2 separate regions of the Homo sapiens genome follow, and region 1 is linked to region 2. Evidence: fine-mapped expression QTL. Tissue or cell type: whole blood. Region 2 holds a variant in brackets; the other region holds the start of a gene. All regions are shown on one strand. Distances are between the middles of the regions.

Region 1 (7,783 bases), 26 kb after region 2:
AAAAAAAAAAAAAACAAAACTAGCCGGGCGTGGTGGCGGGCGCCTGTAGTCCCAGCTACTCAGGAGCCTGAGGCAGGAGAATGGCGTGAACCCAGGAGGCGGAGCTTGCAGCGAGTGGAGATCGCGACACTGCACTCCAGCTTGGGTGACAGAGTGAGACTCCCGTCTCAAAAAAAAAGAAGAAATGTGTCACTAAGATACAACCTTACGTTCTTATTCTCCAGCAGCATAAGATAGAAAAGAAATAGCATCTATGTGGTCTAGGATACTTTATGATATCCAAAATATTTGGATATTTTACTTGAAGTTTGATATACTTTTTTATTCTTTGGGATATTCAAAAACTGTTTCTTCAAGGCCGGAAGCGGTGGCTCACAGGGGAGACCAAGGTAGGCAGATAGCTTTGAGCTCAGGAGTTCGAGACCAGCCTGGGCAATATGGCAAAACCCTGTCTCTACTAAAAATATAAAAATAAGCCAGGCATAATGGTGTACGCCTGTAGTGCCAGCTACTTGGTAGGCTGAGGCAGGAGAATCACTTGAGCCCGGGAAGTGGAGGTTACAATGAGCTGAGATTGTACCACTGCACTCCAGCCTGGGCGACAGAATAAGACCCTGTCTCAAAAAACAAACAAGACCGGCCGGGCGCGGTGGCTCACGCTTGTAATCCCAGCACTTTGGGAGGCCGAGGCGGGCGGATCACGAGGTCAGAAGATCGAGACCATCCTGGCTAACATGGTGAAACCCCGTCTCTACTAAAAATACAAAAAAAATTAGCCGGGCGTGATGGCGGGTGCCTGTAGTCCCAGCTACTCGGGAGGCTGAGGCAGGAGAATGGCATGAACCCGGGAGGCGGAGCTTGCAGTGAGCCGAGATTGCGCCACTGCACTCCCGCCTGGGCCACAGAGCGAGACTCTGTCTCAAAAAAAAAAAAAAAAAAAAACAAGACCAACCAAAAAACCATATATATATATATATATATATATATATATATATATATATATATGTATAGTTTCTTTAACTGCGTTTAAAAGTCAAGTGTATAACTTAAAAGTTTCAAAAAAATTATGCTGAAATATGCCCCCACCAAAGTAAGAATACAAGAGAAAATGTGTCTTTATAATTTCAAATTAGAGGAAATTTATAATTGTCAGTGTGAGTCCATCTTTAATATGTATTATCAAACATGTCTTAATGGGCTGGGTATGGTGGCTCACGCCTGTAATCCCAGCACTCTGGGAGGCTGAGGCAAGCAGATCATTTGAGGTTGGGAGTTCGAGACCAGCCTGGCCAACATGGTGAAACCCCTTCTCTACTAAACATACAAAAATGAGTCGGGCATGGTGGCGGGCACCTGTAATCCCAGCTACTTGGGAGGCTGAGGCAGGAGAATCGCTTGAACCCGGGAGGTGGAGGTTGCAGTGAGCAGAGATCTGCCACTGCACTCCAGCCTGGGTGACAGAGCAAGACTCAGTCTCAAAAAAAAAAGGCTTTAACGATCTTTTACTATGGTGTATAATAAGAAATATCATTGGAAAGATTTCAATGTAAGATTTTTGGCCGGGCGCGGTGGCTCACGCCTGTAATCCCAGCACTTTGGGAGGCCGAGGCGCGTGGATCACAAGGTCAGGAGATCGAGACCATCCTAGCTAACACAGTGAAACCCTGTCTCTACTAAAATTACAAAAAAATTAGCTGGGTGCGCTGGCGGGCGCCTGTAGTCCGAGCTACTCGGGAGGCTGACACAGGAGAATGGCGTGAACCCGGGAGGCGGAGCTTGCAGTGAGCCCAGATCGCGCCACTGCACTCCAGCCTGGGCGACAGAGCAAGACTCCGTCTCAAAAAAGAAAAAAAAAAGATTTTTACATATATAAGTATATATAAATAAATGAAAAATATACGTAAAATACATAAAACATATGTTTTTCATACATATATATGAAAACTAAAGACATTCAAACTCTTTTCTAGGAGTATGAAGTCATTAATATAATGAGACAGTGTTATTGTAGAAACCTTTGAATTTTTAGGAGAGTTCCAGAATGAATAAAGCAATTATTGTCATGAAATACCAAACTTTACATCCTACTCACTGCCTCTGTGACTTCTGTAGGGCAATTATATAGCCACAGATGAAACAGGAGGAAGCTAAAGAATTTCAAGTCAAGAAAGGGCAAAGTTCCACCATATCCTGAGGCAAGCTGAGGGAGAAGCCCTCAAAGTCCAGCCGTCAGAGTTCAGTTTTACCTGGAAAACCCCAAACTTCCCTGATTTTCTTACACCAAAGTCACAGGCTACAGCTGAATTTCTAGATTTTGAACAGCAGTTTGCCACCTGTGCTTTGTAACATTCCTGGCTTTCTCTGATAACTTCATGACTTCCTGTGAAATTCTTTAAACAGAATCCATTTTAATTCACTACAATTTAAATACTACACATGCCATAAATCACTTTCAGGGAGAGAAAGGAAGAAGGGGCTGTGGTGGAAAAAAGAGAACAAGGAATTTCCAGAGGTGGGAAAAAAATTCCAGGAATAACATATCAAAAAGAAAATAGTAGAAATTACTTACCAAAATGCAAAATATGTGCAGCATGCCTCAGTTGTATGAAGTTGAACAATTTAGGTAATTCAGTTCAACAATCACTGATTGAACACCAACTACATCCAGGGAAAGGAGAGGGCACTGAAAAGATCTACTTCCCCTTGGGCTACACTGGAGGAGGGCCTCTAGCAGAAGAGTTGGCCCCTGCAAGTCTTGGTCCTTACATTCAGGGAGCTGCCACTGCTTTATGCAGAGCCTTGAGGATGCAGTGACACTCTCAAGCCAGGTAAGGTGGTCCAGGCACTCCCCTGGGAGCTGGGGCCAATCCTCCAAGTAAGGCCACATTTAGGGAGTCAAAGGGGATTTGCAGTGATTATTGGGCAGTTAGTGTTTTTTGTTTGTTTGTTTCTAAAACTTTAGTTCTTAAACTTCGCGCGGAGTGACCACATTCTCATTATCCTGAGCGCTGTTGAATTCTTCCAAATCCTTCCTAGATCGGTTAAGTCATTCTGTATGACAGAACAGCTTTTGATGCCTGCTCCTGTTTGAAAAATCTGAACGCTGTAAAGGACGACGCAGGGAGAGAGTTTACTGAGCACTTCCACCTCTTTGGGTGAAAGTTGTAAAATATCCCCTTTTCGTGTGACAGCAGATCTCACTTTTGGAAACCCATGACACATGCCAAATGAAGTCACAAATCAAATACCCCTCCTAACTATCAGGGTGATGAAAGAAGTGCACAAGGAAGATTTAATACTATTTTATCGGGGAGGGGCGTGGAAAGAAGTACTCTTTTTTTTTTTTCTTTCATCTGGTAGAGATGGCAGACTGGGTTTTGTTTTTCCTCCTTTTTATTTAAACTACAGGAACATGGTTCCAACTGGAATCGCCTATTAAAACCATCCATTCTTAACAGCAAAATCGATATCCACGGTGTCTCCGGGCAAAGCGCCCGTTACCCCGTGAGCCTCTGCCACAGGTGGACGCAGAGCAACAGACACTCGGTTACCCTCAGGTCCCTGCGCCCGGAGACAGAAGCCACGCGGGCGCGCTCGAGGTCCTGGGCTCTTTGTCGAGAGCCCAGCGTGGCGCCGGGCCCCATTGGTTACGCGTCCGCTCGGTGCCATCCTGGTCCCTCGTCCCTCCCCCATCCCGGCGTCCACGACCCGGGCGCAGGCCACATGGTCCTCGGATTGCCCGGTCCCGGGTCCCCGCAAGGCGCGTCTACACCACGCCGCTAGACCCACGCGGCGAGGGGCTGGGCTTCCCCGGGGGCCACGGGTTCCGAAGTCCGCCCCCGTCCCCGCCTCCGGAGCTCACCGCTTTGAGATCCAGAACGCCGTCCTTGGCCTCCTGCAGCAGCGACACGAACTTGGTAGTGAGCAGCCCCAGGCTCTTCTCGTGCCTGCTGCTGCCGCCCCCGGCGCCCCCGAGCTGCGGCGGCGGGGGCGGCTGCGGGGCTTGCGCCTGCGGAGGCTGCGGCGGCGGCCGCTGGCCCTGCCCCTGCCCTGCCGGCGCCTGCTGGCCCGAGCTCGCGGGCTCTGCCGCCGCCATCGCGTCCCGGCCCCGCGGTGGTCGGGCCCCCGCGCACTTTCGCTCGCCGGCCCCGCCCGCGGCCACCTGCCGGGTCGGCTCCGCTGCGGCCGCTTCCCCGCCCGCCGAGAGCGGTAGTGCGGGTCGCTGGCTGCTGCAAACAACAGGTGTGCGGCGCCCACGGGAGTCTGGGCCGCTTGTCACGCCGGGCCTCCGCCCCCTCCCCAAGCCCGGGGAAGCGTGAATGAGGCCCACGACCGAGGGGGGAGGGGTGGAAACGAGGAGAAGGGGCTGCGAGGGGTGGGGACCTGAGTTTAAATGGCAGGAAGTGACGCCGCCGCCCGCCGTTGCCTAGAAACACATTTTTCTGTAGGAAGGAGGAGCGCACGAGGAGGAGGAGGGGTGTTGGCGCGTGTGTTTCACACTCGCCTCCCTGGCGTTCGCGAGCTGACCCGAGGAGTGGTAATCTCACGCGGCAAAGCAGGGAGGAAGAAAAAAAGGAGACAAAAGAAAAAAAGACTTTTATCTGGGCAGAAAGTCACAATGCCTAGCGGCCAAACGTTTGTGAGCGGTGAAGTTGGTTGACTGCTCAAGTTTGCAGAGCTTCAGCAGTAGGTTACTTTCTCTGGACGGTTTCTGCTATCTTTGCTCTTTTCGAGCTCTAGCATCGTTTGCAAATATTTCAATGACTTGGACCAAGTGCAGAGTTTTACTTCATAGCTCACCCTTTTAGATTCGGAGTACAGAAAAAGGCATCGTGGAGTTTTAGGGTTGGTTTTCATCAATCCTTTCCAAGGCCTTTACTTTCTACATGGAGAAACGTGTAGAGGGAGAGGTTGTGAATTGCCAAAGACATGCCGTTAGATTCCAGATCTCCTGTGTTTGACCAAAGTTCTTGACCAAAGTTCTTAATATCTTATTTGAACCAAATTATATTGTATTTGGAATATTGGGTAGCCACAGGCCCTTGGACTTCAGTGATATTCCAAACTATTGATGGCAAATGACATTATGGAGATCTGAGTAAAAGAAAGTCGTTGGGATTTTTTCCTCATTATATTACAAACTCTTGAGAATCCAGACTAAATTTTAAATGACTTGTTGTCACACTCAACACTTTGAATATAGTAGACAATAAAGATTAGGCGAATGAGACCAGGCGCGGTGGCTTACGCCTGTAATCCCAGCACTTTGGGAGGCCGAGGCAGGCAGATCATTTGAGATCAGGAGTTCGAGACCAACCTGGCCAACATGGTAAAACCCCGTCTCTACTAAAAATACAAAAATTAGCGGGGGGTGGTGGTGCCCGCCTATAGTCCCAGCTACTCCAGAGCCTGAGGCAGGAGAATCTCTTAAACCCAGGAGGCAGACGTTGCAGTGTTGCAGTGAGCCGAGATGCCACCACTGCACTTCAGCCTGGGCAACAAAGCAAGACTCTGTCTCAAATAAAAAAAAAAAAGATTAGGTGAATGAAAATTCTATATGGCAATAATTAATCAAGAAGATTTCATGCAAGAAAGATTTTGCTTAATTTTAAGTAACAATAAACTAACAAAAAAGGTCACTGAAGCGACATCAAATACAACAGCATTAACTAGTAAAGCTGAACACACCATTTATAACACATCATAGGCACAGAACTTTATAACCTTTATTAATAACCTATTCATAATAACCTTTATTTTAATCAAATCTATAAACAAAACTTAAAATTGAAAATCTGAAGTAAAACATGAAAAATTCAGTTGATACAACCATTTTCCAACAACCTATCCAAGAAAGGCTATCTTTATTTGATTTGACATGGGACACATCATTGACAAGTTTTGCAAATTTATTTTATTGATTATTGTCAAGTAGTATTTCTTAGAACATACTGAATTAGGAAGATTCTAATTTGTTTTTAACTTTATAACAGAACATTGTGTTATATGTGCAGGGACAGGAATTAATAACACTAAATGTATTAATATTTTTAAAACTTACACTTCTATGGTGTCTTAGTTTGAGAAAGTACCATAAACTGGGTGACTTAACGGAAATTAATTTTCTCACAGTTCTGGAGGCTGCAAGTCGACGATCAGGAGGCTGCCATGGCCAGGTTGTGGTGAGGGCCCCCTTCTTGGCTGTCAGATTGTGGCTTTCTCATTGTGTCAAATGGCAGAGAGAGAGAGAAAGACAGACAGAACAGAGACAGCATAAGCTCTCAGATTTCTTATAAGGGCACTAATTCCATCTGAGGGCTCAATCTTCACGATTTCATCTAAACCTAATCACCTCCCAAAGGCCCGAGGGTTAGGGTTTCAACATACAAATGTTGGGGAGATATAGTTCATCCCATGGCATGTAATCATATTTTATAGTAGCTATCTTGGTAATTTTTAAAAACAATATTTTTTAAATTTCAGCTTTAAAAGGTTTTCTACAAAGCAATTATATTATTAGTGATTCTAAAAGGTCAATTAACAATTTATTTTGCACTGTTATTTGTGTTTTTCACAATGAATTTTTTATCTCTTTAGATTGCCTGGGGTTCAATTAGAAATTATTCACAAATTAGCAGCCATTTTAATTAGCATTCAAAATCTTATGTCTGTCTGAAGAGCTAAAAATCGCTTATACCAGTGGTTCCCAGACCTTAGGGGAAAAAATCATCTACAATGTTTGTTAAAAATCTAGATGCTTGGATCCAAACCCCAGGGATCAAATTAGCATTTGATATGAGAATATGACCTGTGAGTCCACATTTTTCACAGTTCAGATAATTCTCATGCACAACATAGTCATTCTTTGAGAAACGCCAAATAGCACAATGAAAAATAATGCAATATATATTTTTCCTAAAAATCGACAAAAAACAGAGATTGATAATGCAAAAGTTTTTTAAATATTGCTAAATGTTTTTAAAAATTCTATTTTTTAAAAAAACTAAGAAACATGATTTTTTAAAAGTTATGATACAAATAATGTTTAAGAACATGATATTGATCAGTTTTGTAATTTAACTTTTATTTCTGTATCCTTTTGACTATAAAGGAGATAACTCTCAAAAGGCTGTAAATTCCTACATCAGTTCTTTGTGCCATTTCTGACAAAGGCTTAAAAATTATTTCCAACAAAAGTCAAAGCTGGCTGAGTGCTCACGCCTGGCTGGGCACTCACGCCTGTCTGTAATCCTAGCACTTTGGAGGGCTGAGAGAAGAGGATTGCCTGAACCCAGGAACTCAGGACCAGCCTGGACAACATGGCAAAACCCCATTTCTACAAAAACTACAAAAATTAGCTGGGCGTGGTAGTGCACACTTGTAGTCCCAGCCACTAGAGAGGCTGAGGTGAGAGGATCACTTGAGCCCAAGAGGTCAAGGATGTAGTGACCTGTCATCCTGCCACTGCAATCCAGCCTGAGTGACAGAGTGAGAATCTATCCTAAAAAAAAAAAAAAAAAAAAAAATCCAATTGAACTAAACTATATTTCATTGACCTATAAGGGTAATAAATGCATAACAGTAATCCTTCATTAAATTCAATTTACGCTGATTAGTTGGGTAGATACTATTTTCAATTATAATATTGTTTATATGCCCCTGGTTAAATTTTCTTTTTTTAAATGCATTTTGGAAGTGCAGCTCCTTAGCTAGTTCAGGACTAAGAAGGAAGGCTTAAATATTTCAAAACAGAATGATTTCTTAGTCCACAGCTCATTAAACT
Region 2 (7,783 bases):
AGTAGATTCATTTTTCCCACTTATATAAACATAAGTTATCCTACATACCATTTCTGGAATGGGTACCTCCAGTTGTGTACCAGAAGGTGCCTGAATGGCCAAAAGTGTATCACCTGGTCAAAAATAAATATAAAAAGTTACATAAAATACTGTTGATCATGGAATACAGTGGCAAGAATGTGGGCTCTGGAATCAGAGTGTTTGGTTCAATCCCAAACTAGGTGACCTTGAGCTTTGATTTTCAATTCTATAAAATGGGGGATACACAACCTACTGCATAGATTTATTTTGAGGATTAAATAAGATAATACATGTATTAGTATTATACATGGGTTAGCTGTATGATTCTCATTAACAAATTCAGCTCAAGTTGATTTTGCTTTGACTAAGACTCCTGTAAAGTCTGAGATTCTTAAGACCATTTAGCCTCAAATAACACTGTTCATTGGACTGAGGATAGTGGAGATTAGGTATGAGACACTGAAATGTTGAGCTTAAATGATTTTATTATTTTTGAAGCCAAATTCTACAACAAATCTCTGTTGAGTTGCAGATTAACAGAAGTCTCAGCAAACTTCCTTAAAAAACTCAGGAAATACAGTGGTAAAATAGAACAATAGTCCTATACTTATTTCCAACATAGTCTTACATAGAAAGTCAGATTCCACTTGATGAGGTACTTGGCAGAATCTTTTTAAATAGGTGGATAATACACATAAATTTAAATATGCACAATTTCATTTTACTTGTGCTATAATTTTGGGAACACACGTCCCCCCATTTTAGTTATATTAATAATTATAATTATTAACATGATATTGTTATTTTAAGGAGAAAACACAGGGGCAGCAAATTGCATAGGAATAGGTTTCCTGGTTATAAGATGGATTCACCTAATTCTTTCCTTATGGTTTCTTTGAGTTTCATTTGAGACCAGCATACTTGCATATAGTTTGATAAACAATGCTGATGAGAACCATGTTCTAGTTCAAGTTTGGTCACTAACTCTGTGACTGTGTGACAATGAAAGTTGCTTAATCCCGCTCTGATTTAGCTTGCCCTCTGTCCCTGTCCCCTTCCCCTTCCACACACAGTTGATCCCTACCAGTGGAGCTAATGAACTGAATGCTGTGAAAAGCAGCTATTCTCATGAAAACAGAAACAAAAGCAGTCTATCAATACACGGCATGGTGGAGTGAGACACAATGCCCACAACTTCTGAAAATAATGACAGGATGAGGACACAGGGAATTCTGAATCACCCTCCACTAAATAGGTTGAGAGGAAGAATGCAAGGAAAAGTCTAATGGTACTTACCATTAAAGCAATTACAGATGTCTTCATGAGTTACATAGGAAAATGTACTGTCATAGGAGTTAAGGAACGACATTTATATCAAGCCGTAGGCATTTAAATTAAGGTAATACATCTGAAGGTCAAAATAACTAAATGACCATATGCACAGAGGGACTGCCACACATGGACAGACAAAAAAAGAAGTCTAGTCTAGAAAGGTAAAGACAAAGGAGTTCCCATCCTTTGCTCTTAGAAGAAGCCATTCTGATTTTTGTGACATTTGAGGACCCTTAGGAGAGAGATGGAAAGCAGTGCACATTCTTCATGGAGGCAAAGGTTTCTGGGGGAAGGGAATGGATGGGGAAAAGGAGGCCATCAGCAACCATATCAGCTTCCACATCAGGAATTTTCTGTGATCGTTGTTTTTTGTTCTTGTATTAAATGGTCAGGTATGGCCACAAGAGGACACAGAGGATTAAAGAAAGGCTCAGAAAAACAAAGTATTATACTCATAGGTCCTAGTGACGGGAGGCAAGGCAGGCTACTCAGGGCCACATGGTTAAGACAACAAGGTGGTCAGGAGGCAGAAGACAGGAGCAAGGGGAAAGCATTAGCCCAGAGCTTTTATTGGGGTTTCCTTGGGAAAAGAAATGCAGGGTGGCTGGGCATGGTGGCTCACGCCACCCAGCACTTTGGGAGGCCGAGGCAGGTGGATCACTTGAGGTCAGGAGTTCAAGACCAGCCTGACCATATGCACAGAGGGGCTGCCACACATGGACAGATAAAAAAAGAAGTCTAGTCTAGAGATGGTGAAACCCATCTCTACTAAAATACAAAACTTAGCAGGGCATGGTGGTGAGCACCTGTAATCACAGCTACTCTGGAGGCTGAGGCAGAAGAATTGCTTAAACCCGGGGGGTGGAGGTTGCAGTGAGCCAAGATCGCATCACTGCACTCCAGCCTGGGCAACAGAGCGACTCCATCTCAGGAAAAAAAAAAAAGCAGGGTGGGGAGAACACTACGATTAGCTAGTCTGGATAATTTTGTTTTGTTTTATTTTGAGACGGAGTTTGCTCTATCGCCCAAGCTGAAGTGCAGTAGTGTGATCTTGGCTCACTGCAGCTTCTGCCTCCTGGGTTCAAGCAATTCTCCTATGGCCTCCCTGGTAGCTGGGATTACAGATGCACATTGCCATGCCCAGCTAGTTTTTGTACTTTTAGTACGGACAGGGTTTCACCCTGTTGGCCAGGCTGGTCTCAAACTCCTGACCTCAGGTGATCCGCCAACCTTGGCTTCCCAAAGTGCTGGGATTACAGGCGTGAGCCACTGCATTTGGCCTAGTTTGGATAATTTTGGTGGGCTCTAAGCTATGCAGGTAGTCCCCCAGTTGTCTGGTACCTGACCCTGGGATGATTAAGGCAGAGGAATATTGCCACCTGGGGTGTATGGACTGGAGAGAGGAGGTCTGGACCTTGACTGGTTAGTTTATATATCAAAGGGATGCTCCTGGCTGAGCCCATGCTGTTTCTTTTTTTTTAATTTTATTATTATTATACTTTAAGTTTTAGGGTACATGTGCACAACGTGCAGGTTTGTTACATATGTATACATGTGCCATGTTGGCGTGCTGCACCCAATAACTCGTCATTTAGCATTAGGTATATCTCATAATGCTCTCCCTCCCCCCTCCCCCCACCCCACAACAGTCCCTGGTGTGTGATGTTCCCCTTCCTGTGTCCATGTGTTCTCATTGTTCAATTCCCACCTATGAGTGAGAACATGAGGTGTTTGGTTTTTTTGTCCTTGCGATAGTTTGCTGAGAATGATGGTTTCCAGCGTCATCCATGACCCTAAAAAGGACATGAGCCCATGCTGTTTCTAAGAAGTGGCTAGTCCCAGGATGGGCAGTCTCTCCTCAGCCAGAAAGGTTTATGGAGATGTCAAAATACCATAATATACAGAAAACTTTATATATATCACACATAACCATGGTTGGGGCAATGGGAATGGCCAGCATCTCGTAAAGCAGGGCAGC[G/A]AAGTCCAAGATAAAATAGATTAATGGCTTTTGAATTTCAGAGCTCCACAGAACACAGCTTGAAAACTCCCATTGTTCTCAAACTGTTAAGGGGCTCTGATCCATACAAAGGAAATAACAAATGAGATCATGGACTTGTTCACCAAATACATGAAAATGTGAAAAGTAAATTATATTGTATACATTAGTCAAAATTTCATGAGGTGCTACAAGGTAAAATGTGGTTAGTTTCTTTAAGAGTACAGGTAAGTTCATAAACTAAGAGAATCACAGATACCTGAGAGAAGACGGTGGTTTGTAAGAAACACATGGATATGTGTTTTTATATATATAATAATGTTTTTATATATTATATATAAATATATTTTATATATTATATATGATATTATATGTATTATATATAATAATGTTTTTCCCCCAATATATATTGTTGATAGGCACACACGACTTAGACCCCTGTTCTCCAGTAGGAACTATTTTGGGGTTCATGTTAGGCAGAAAGTATCAAGGATTGATTGTGGACACATCATATCTCATCTTTAAACGAAAAATTTTCAAAACTTTGAGAGCTGCTGAATTTTATACTTCAGAACACTGAACATAATTATTTAAAAATACAAATGTACTTAACAATGGCTTCTAATATTCACAGATTTCCTAAGCACACTGGCTAGCATACTGCATTCTATCAATTGGTAGACCAAAAGTTGGCTAATCTCTTTTTCCCCCTCAGTGCAACACAGGAATAACGCTAACGGATCTGTACTATATAACTTAAAAAGGTAACATTTAGAAAATATTAGTATATAAGAATATAATAAAATTAAAATGTCATATTTACTTATAAAACTTAACTGTCTAAAAACAAAGTGAATGATCTTTAGACTGAAATGATTTATACATACATATTCCAAAGCTATATGTATATGCATAACTTATTTAAAAGGATATCTATTATTAATGGAATCGTCCATCACATTTTTGATGCTTTGCTGTAGCCACAACTTCTGCTGATCAAGTTCTCTTTCCTTCAGTTCTAGATCTTCAATTTCAGCTTTAAGATATCTTAATCTATCTATGACTTCTTTAGTATTACAGCCAGCACCTACACCTCTTAAAAACATATGAGAATTAATATCCTCAGTATCAGATCTAGGTTAATATCACTTAATTTTTACTGTAATAAAACTGACTTATTTAGTAATATATTCAAGACAGAAGTCTTTACACTCTTAAAATCAAGCACTAAAATCCTTAAAAATTTTAAACACCATACTTCTTGCTTAGAAAATTTATTGACAAGAACAACCAAATTACAAAAATTCTCAATCTTCCCTACAGTGTTTTTTTGTCATCTGGAAGGCCAGACTGGTTGGTGACTGGGTACCAAAAGAGTGTGCTCAGCAGTCACACCTAGCAGTCTCAGGATGTGACTGAGGTGCTGGTAAAATAAATTACAACATTTTAATGTTTTGGTGGAATTTTGGCGAAAACAAAACAAGACAAAAACTATGGTCAAAGGGGACACATTAGAAGAACAGAAATTGTTACATTCAAACGTATAACCAGGCCACAATTAATGACAACATGCGTTTCAATTAATTACTATTTACAAAGTACAAATTCCTATGAAAGTAGTTCTTGCTCTCAAGGACAGGTAAAGAGTTAGGAAGAGATTAATACAAGACAGTATGCAATGTGTGCCAAATGAGTAATAGCTTGAGGGAGAAAGTAAGATTTGAATTTTAAGAGCGAAAACCCAATATCCAAGAGAGCAAGGGAACACCCAACACAGGAGTGACACAGAGGCCCAGAAAGGTGTGTTCAGGGAAAGCTGAGGGGCCTGACTGAAATAGAGGATTTGGGAGATAGAAACATTGGGAAGGTCAAATTTTACAGAGCACTGAGAAGAAAAAAGGTTTCAGAAGAGGGTGCTGGTTTGTAACTTACTTCCACTGGATACTGTTTTTTGACTTTTTTTCAATCAAGTCAATTCCCTCTAAGACATTGGTGATATCATAAATTCTCCTTTTTTGCCTCACAGCCAAAGTATCAGCAGCCTGTTCAGGAAAGACAACGAGAACAGTGAAATAAAGGGCAAGTCATATTTTAAAGCCAAAAAGGGTTGATTATTAAATCCACAACAAGTCCAATCTCAAATTTGACCCACTCAGTTGCTTGGGGACAATAGCTGAGCATGTTCAAAGCATCTCCCAAACACTGCAAATACCAAAGAAATTATTCCATTTAAAAGCTAGCAGATGTTGGAACAGAAAAAGAAATTAAGGTCATGACACAAAGCCTGCAAAAATAAAAGAACACAATAAGAATACTTTGTGTCACCTTATGGACTAATCCTGAGGAGGAGCTACTAATTGCCTATCCATGTCACCTCCTATCTTATTTCTCTGTTCATAAACAGTCTCATCTAAAGATGCATTACTTATTTTTTAAAATTTTAAAGAATTACATCTCAGCAATTTATTTTGGTAATTAAGACACTTGGAAATTCTGAACTATATGCACACTTATAATACCTTGAAATAAATATCTACATTTTTAAATTAATAACGAAAACAGAGGAATGAATCATGCCATCCTAACACAAAGCATAAAATCAGCAAGAAATCAGAATCAATAGCTCAAGATTGCACTAGCAACTATTATACAAAAACTTGGTAGCTGCATTCACATTAGATAAGATCAACAAAACAATATATGCTATCATGTTATGAATTCAACAAACAATTCCTCTGATTAGTTCCAATTCACATTTTTGATGTGTGTTCCCAAAAGAACAAAGAGAACCTCAAAGAAGTTTTCAGAGTGGATTAGACAATAGCCTATTTTGAATGTGGAGCCACATTTTAAGATCCATGGTAGTTACAAATATTTGTGTCTCTACTGACAATTTTCAGCACATTATCTAAAATATCTAAATGAACAGGATTTAGCTTCACATAATTGCTAACAGCTCTCCCAGCTTCGCATAATTGCTAACAGCTCTCCCAGAGAGCATCACTACTTTCTTGATTCTGTGAAAACCTAGCTCAGCACAGTGTTTGCAATCTGGACCTGCCTTCCCCCCAGAGAAGGTGCCACTGACAGCTATATTCACTGTACAGGCATTTGGGATCTTAAGAGAAATGTCAGTTCTCTCAGACACATTTTTTTGTATGTGCCACCAAAACCCCCAGGTTACTGCTGTCCCATCATTCAGGTCTTCCTCAAGAAGGGGATTCATGCCTCAGTGGACCAGGAGAATAAGCAGGATGTGGCAGAAGAAGGAAAAGCAGGAGAGTGGGGCTCTTTGTTCCCCAACTCTAACTTGGCACTGTCCCTTCTAGAGAACCAGAAAATTAACAGCAGGACTAGCCATGGTTTGTTTCATTGATACCTTCTTCCCTTGTACTTAGCAATTCCCTTCTTGTTTTATCGACCTTCACAGAATTTTTACTCTTGACTTCGAGGCTGTTTTTATGAAGAGCAATACACGACTGCAAAGTTAACGGTACAAATCTGAAGCTGAGGTTTCATTTCTCACTTTCCTCTCTCTAGAGAAGTAACTCAGAGAACTCCAAGCCATGGCTCTGTGTTACTGGTATCTATGTACTCACACAGAAAAGCATTCACAGCCATAGCAACAGCACTCTGGTTTTGGTATCAGAACATGTTTGTATGAACCAGACCACAAGATCTAGCTTAGGTCATTAGGCAAAGTGCCATGAGATTTAATTTTTAGCTCAAAGTTTTAAAAAGGTGTCTTGTTTATCATTTATATTTATTACTGCTTAACAATCACAACATTTAACCCCTAGTTTCTAAAACTAAACATTATTTCTCAAATACTTTACTATTTAAGTATGTAAACATATAAATGACTAACATGTACAGATCATATGTAAAAGAATCTCCAGGAGGGTTTTATTTTAGAAAGTCCCATCATTCTTTTTTTTTTTTGAGACAGAGTCTCCCTCTCTTGCCGAAGCTGGAGTGCAGTGGTGTGATCTTGGCTCACTGCAACCTCCACCACCTGGGTTCAACTGATTCTCCTGCCTCAGCCTCCCAAGTAGCTGGGACTACAGGTGTGTACCACCACGACTGGCTAATTTTTGTATTTTTAGTAGAGACGAGGTTTCACCATGTTGGCCAGGCTGGTCTTGAGCTCCTGACCCCAGATGATCCACCCACCTCGACCTCCCAAAGTGCTGAGATTACAAGTGTGAGCCATGGCACCCAGCCAGTCCCATCATTCTTAAGAAGTTCTGAAGCTAAACACACTGAGATCCAGTCCCAGGGCTGCCACTTCCTATCTTCAGCTGGCCTCATCGTAAGCTCACTAAGCCTCATTTCCTTTTTCATAAAATGGTATAACATATACTGAAAGGAGTATTGTGGGAATTAAACTGGATAATCTTACCGCAATGTCTACTGTATAGTGATTACTTAAAT

Evidence for each region. PIP is the estimated chance that this variant, and not a neighbour inherited with it, causes the effect.
Region 1: it holds the start of E2F5, and the variant in region 2 is fine-mapped to the expression of E2F5 in whole blood (TOPMed, PIP above 0.99).

What each region holds. Positions count from the first base shown.
Region 1 is chr8:85,173,734-85,181,516 of GRCh38, reverse strand. It overlaps E2F5 (E2F transcription factor 5), which reads right to left and starts at 4,363. Exons shown (of 8, transcript NM_001951.4): 1 at 3,863-4,363. The coding sequence starts at 4,096. It overlaps E2F5-DT (E2F5 divergent transcript), which reads left to right and starts at 4,476. Exons shown (of 3, transcript NR_134311.1): 1 at 4,476-4,686. RefSeq lists silencers at 3,503-3,892, 3,903-4,432 and an enhancer at 4,533-4,702.
Region 2 is chr8:85,199,755-85,207,537 of GRCh38, reverse strand. E2F5 (E2F transcription factor 5) reads right to left here. Exons shown (of 8, transcript NM_001951.4): 2 at 5,282-5,391; 3 at 4,283-4,444; 4 at 1,318-1,361; 5 at 49-113. Among named protein-coding and RNA genes, the nearest start is that of RBIS, 17 kb to the left of the region's middle. RefSeq lists a silencer at 6,879-6,938. The variant G/A (reference allele first, on the strand shown) is at 3,332.